Regions from separate parts of the Homo sapiens genome. Here region 2 is linked to region 1. A link means that fine-mapping ties the variant in region 1 to the expression of a gene that starts in the linked region. Tissue or cell type: cerebellum. Region 1 holds a variant in brackets; the other region holds the start of a gene. All regions are shown on one strand. Distances are from middle to middle.

Evidence for each region. PIP is the estimated chance that this variant, and not a neighbour inherited with it, causes the effect.
Region 2: MROH1 starts here. The variant in region 1 is fine-mapped to the expression of MROH1 in cerebellum (GTEx, PIP 0.92).

The regions. Positions count from the first base shown.
Region 1 is chr8:144,275,990-144,278,662 of GRCh38, forward strand. It overlaps BOP1 (BOP1 ribosomal biogenesis factor), which reads right to left. Exons shown (of 16, transcript NM_015201.5): 3 at 235-315. Among named protein-coding and RNA genes, the nearest start is that of SCX, 11 kb to the left of the region's middle. RefSeq lists a silencer at 1,819-1,868. The variant C/A (reference allele first, on the strand shown) is at 1,201.
Region 2 is chr8:144,146,679-144,149,351 of GRCh38, forward strand. MROH1 (maestro heat like repeat family member 1) reads left to right here and starts at 1,338. Exons shown (of 44, transcript NM_032450.3): 1 at 1,338-1,398. RefSeq lists silencers at 610-699, 820-1,019, 1,190-1,569.

The DNA of each region.
Region 1 (2,673 bases):
CCCCTTCACAAGCCATGATGACACACATACATTGCAGTCTTGTGTCCCAGACCCCGAAATTGCTCTTGCAGATGGGGAAGCAGGACGCCCACGTGGGCCTCGGCTCCAACAGTGCGGCCCACCTGCGGCAGGTCCCAGCACCCCCAGGGCAACCCCAGCCCCAACCCCCAGCACCTGCTAGGCTGTGATGGAAGCCGCCCCACCCTGCCCAGTGGGAAGCAGCCCCAGTCCTACCTCCTCATCAGAGCTGTCCTCCGCATACTCATCCCCAATCCGGGCGCTCGCCATCTCTGTCCTCGGGCAAGGAGTGCTGGCCTGCAGAGAGAGAGAGAAAATGGTCACTTCAGGGGATACAGGGTACCCTTTGACCTTGGGGGGATCCCAGGAAGCCCACCACCCCGAAATCTCTGAGCAGCTCCAGCCTGGCACAGGCCTCAGCACAAGGCCGAGAACACCCAGCTCTAAGGGGGCCTCTGGGGGCTGTGGCTGGCACCCGGCGCCGCAGGTCCTGCCCACGGCCCTGTCCTCTGTGAGGGCTGGACTGCAGCCTCCCGGGGCCTCTGTCCCTGGGCTGACACGGGTGTCAGGCTAGACACGGAAGCCACTGGGGCAGTCAGGAGCAAAGCCGCCAGCTGAGGACCAAGACCCACCGCCAACCACCCGTACCCCCATTCATGTCAAAGCCACAGGACTCCTCCCAGGGGCCCCACATGGCGCTCCTGCCGAGCCCCGCCTGGGACGGGGGCAGCATGGTCGGGGGGAAGAAGGAGACGCAGCCGTCGCAGCAGGGTCACTGGGGCCAATGCTCTTGAAGGGGCGGGGGACACACATTGTCCACCCATCCCGGGGGCCACGTCCCGCCCAGTCCAGCCAGCAGAGGGCCCAGAGAGGGCCCCGAACACTCAGAAGGCCTGCCCAGCGTTCTCCCACCCACCACGTCCACAGCCCAGGCTGACCCCATCCCGCCGGGTCACAGAGTGGGCGCCACTGAGAATTCACATCCCAACCTGGAAAACAGATTCTGCCCTCGACTGCGGAGGTGAGGATGGCTCCAACCGGATCGGGTTTACTGGCGGAACCAAGGCTGATGGGGAAAACAGGCCCACCTCTCACCCGTGGGGGCAGTAAAGTGCTCGGGCGCAGGAACCCCAGAGCGAAGGCGGGCACGCCCCCGCCCCCACCCCGAGCCCCTCTTCTCTC[C/A]GGCCCGGGCTCCTCCCCTGCCTGTTTTTTCCTTCAATATAAAGAGAGATGGGAGACTAAGTTTTTTCCCAGGCCAGGAACAAGGAAGGATTCAGTTTCCACGTCTCCCCCTGCTGCTGACAGTGGCCTGGGGCGCTCAGTGACACGGAGCTCTTGCCCCTGCCTGGAGCACATGAGCCCCCACAGCCGCAGCAGATCCGTGACCCCGGCCCCAAGCCCCAGACGCGCACAAGGGCAGTTCCACACCCGGCTGCGGTCGGCTGCCCCCGCCTGGCCTCTGCGGACGGGTACCGGGCTGGGCTCCCGACCCCTCACAGTGGCCGGGGCTGAAGCACCGCACGCTGGAGTCCCAGCCTCGCTGCTCATGGGCCGCAGTCCCAGGGTCCTGGCAGGTGACAAAAGACTTGTCACCCAGCGCTCTGTGCCCCGTGGCCCCTGTGCTGGATGTGGACAGGCCACGGCACAGGCAGGCTCTGGGCAGGGGGCAGAGGTGGCCTTCGAAGGTGCTGGGTTCCCAGGGGCGCAGCATCCCCGTGGGACAGCTGTGGGGCACAGAGTCCACCAGGGGGCGACGGCGCTCAGCCAGGCCCAGCGCCCGAAGGGCAGGGGCGGTGCGGGCAGGGGCGGTGCGGGCAGGGGCGGCCACTGCTGGGAACTGCCTGACCTAGAAGGCCCCTTCAGATTTTGGAGGCAGATGCTGTGGGGCATTGAACGTATTTTTTTTAACTTAAAAATTAGAGGAAAAGGCCACCAAAACCCTAACGACACAGACAACGGAACATGAGCCCACGCCACGCTCCGGACTCCTGGGGACAGGACCCCCTCCCGCCACGCCCATGCCTGGAGTCAGCCCGGATTCTCCAGGGTCTCCAGCACCACCCGCAGTGTGCGTGGCCTGACTGAGGAGGGGTCGGGCCCGATGGAGCACGAGAGTTGCGTGAGGGTGAAGTAAAAGCTGAGAGAGTGGGCGGGCGAGCGCCACTGGGCAGAGGCAGGCGGGTCTGAAGGACCGACGGGTGGGCAGGGAGCCGCCGAGGGGGAGCGCAAGGACGAGGTGCCAGCAGGATGCGGGGCCGCTGGGGCCAAGGAAAGGCTGCTGTAGTCCCTGAACCCTGCGTGGCCTCTGCCCAGCCCCAGGGCTAGAATGTCACCATGAGGACCAAAGGGAGAAACCCACAGTGGGCTCAGCCAGACAGAAACGGTGTCCAAGCGCATGAGCCCCCTATTGTGACCACACCAGAGCCTCCCCTCCCCAGCATCAGGCCAGCCAGGCCGTGCCCCACTGCCACCAACCAGGCATGAGACACGGGCTCTGCCCTCACCTCCTGGGAGAGGATGGCGACAGAGCTGCGGTGTCCCGGTTCGGTGGGAAGAGAACTCTGCTCCCAGGGCTGCCCACAAGAGGGTTCTGCTGGAGACGTGGACAGCAGGAGGGAAGCAGTCCTAACTTGCCCAGAGACCAGAGCCAGAACA
Region 2 (2,673 bases), 130 kb before region 1:
ATACCCACAGGTGTGGAGGGGCAGGCCACCCCTTCATTAGGAAAAAAATAGAAACTGCGCCAGGCAATTTAAGCAGGTGGGATTGGTTGCTTAAGTGTCAGAAGGGCTTGAGAGGCACGGGGGCAGGGTGGAGTTCGTCGAAGGTGGGGGCTGCAAGAAGCGGCCACTCTAGAACCGGAGCCAGGTGGTCCCGACCCAGGGTGGCTGAGCCTCTGGGCTCTGCTGCGGAGCCTGGGAGCCTGCGGCCCCTGCGGCACACCTCCGCTCCCACCAGTGGCAGGACACAGCTGGAAGCCCGCGAGTGTCAAGCCAAGTGATGACTGCAGGATCAGAACGGCCATTGGCTCTGTCCACCCTCCCTTTGCAGTCTCGATTATCCGCGTCGTTGCCTGCACCTGAGTCCATTCCCGGGGCTTCATTGGGCAGCCGTCCCGTGCGGGGCTTTGTAAGCAGCCCTCGGGAGCAAAATACAGACTCAGGCCTGCCCCTGGCGGAGGGGCTGGCGTTCGTTTGTGATCGGAGTGAAAGTGGGGCTGTGCTGCGCGCGGCAGCTGGTGTGCGTGAGGCGGGGGCGGCACCGAGACCGGGAGGGGACAAGGCCACAGGCGCGTGGGAAGCCGCCGCAGGGGCCGCGCCCGCATCCGCAAAGGGTACTGCGCTCTCCCGGGCGCCGTCCCCACAGCGGGAGCCCAGTCCCTCCGGCCAGGAGTGGACATCCTGCCCGCGCTGCTCCCGCCGCCTCCGCCTCTGCCGACGCCCAGCCTGGACGCGCGGCGGGCGCTTTCCTTCCTCACATCGCTCTTATCGCGTCCCGAGTTCCCGGGACCCCGCTGGTCGCCTCTTTCCCAACGAGCGCAGGGCCCTGCGAGTCCTGCCCCCCTCCGGGTGCCGCGGCCTCCAGCTGGCGCTTCCGGGGCAGACAGAGGGCGGGCGGGCCGCGCGAGTCCAGGGCGGGCGTGTGCTTGCGAGCGGCCGCAACGCCGCGCCGAGCCCGCGTCCCCGGCGTCTGGGAGCGGAGGTCGTCAGGGCTGTATGCGTCCGACGGGGACACGGGGACTGCAGCACCCCGGGGCTGGCGTAGCTGTCGCGAGCCTGAAGGCCGCGCCTGCGCCGTGGCGGCCGAACTGTCGCTCAACAGACGGGCGGGGCCGAGCGTGAGGCGGAGTCTGCGCACTGCTGCTTTGCAAATGAAGGTGGGCGGGGTGGAGCGAGCGTGAGAGACGTGCCCCCGACCAATAAGTGCAGAGATCGCTCGGGGGCGGGGACCTGCTGCCGCGCTCCAGGCTGCGGGTGGCCAGAAGGCAGCGGGGGCGGGCTCGGCGCGCGCGGCTCCGCCCACTCCGGGCCCCTGCTGGGCGGGAAGGCGGCGCCCCGGCCGAGGTGGCGGCGGCTCCTCAGGTAAACGGCGGGTGGGGATGAGCCTTCGGCGGCGCTGGGGAAGAGCCCCTCGGGGAAGTCTGGGCTGAAGAGCCTGGGGCGGCTCCCTTGGCGGGGCCGCGGAGGAAGCCGAGTCAGGAGGCGCCTCCCCAAGGTCACAGGGCGAACGCTGGGAGGGTCCTGGGTGTCGCGGGGACCTCGGCTCAGGTGTGCGCCGCGCCACAGCCCGGAAGAGAGGCCGGAGCTGTGCGGCTGTGCTCCTCCTCTGCGCCGCTAAGTCGTCTCGGCCGCGCGACCACCCCTCTTCGGGGAGCTTGGTGGTCCCCGGTGCCCGCCCCTCCGCGGGAGCCCGGTGGTCCCCGGTGCCCGCCCCTCCTGTGAGCCCGGTGGTCCCCAGTGCCCGGCCCTCCCCGGGAGCGCGGTGGTCCCCGGCCCTTCTCCCCCCAGGCGGGGCCACCGGGGGTCCTCTCTCCGGGAAGCCAAGCATACGCCCGGAGCCTGCAAAGCCGGCGTGCCCCGGGCCTCCGTATGCCTTCCGTATTCTCTGACGATCGCGAGCAGGAAGGTGATTTGTCCCTAGTCACGAGGATGACTGGTCATAGCGTGCCGGGCATAGCGCTGGCAGGGCCGCCGGGAGCCAGCCCTCACTCAGCCAAGGTGAGACTTAGGGGGTCGGATTTTCGGGCAGCGTCAGTGCAGCTGCAGTGTGAGGGTCAGAGGAAACCACTCTGCGGGCGCTGGTGGCTCGGTCCTACACACTCTGGGGAGGGGCTCCTTTGCCTGCTCAGTTGGGGAAGGGACAGACTCATAAACTCAAGTGCAGTGAGGTAAGCAGAAAAGGGGTACGGGGGTGTGGCCGAACTTAGGGATGTGAGCAGAGTTGGGTCGGGGACAGCCCTGTAGGCAGGGACCACTTTGGAAGGGGATGGTGGTGAACGCACACGATGCGGTAAGAGGCAGGCAGGGTAGGGCCGGTGATAAGTCAGGTGAGGGTGGTGAGTTGAGTTTAGAGCTGTTGGGTCTCAGTGCGATGACCATGGATGGAGATGTCCCGAAGACCTCGGGTCCCGGCGAGGCGAGGGCTGGAGATGCGTGTGGGAATCGTTGTTTGCGGCATGTTTCATAGGTGGTACGTGTTTGTGACGTGGCTGCATGGACAGTCTGGGCACCCTAGGGTGCTGCCGTCAGCAGGATCTTCAGTGCTCAGTCTCAGGCTCTCAGGGTCCCCGTGAACAGGTGTCTCTGGTCTCTCTTTGATGTCAGAGTGGAATGACCTGAGGCTAAGGTGTTTTTGTT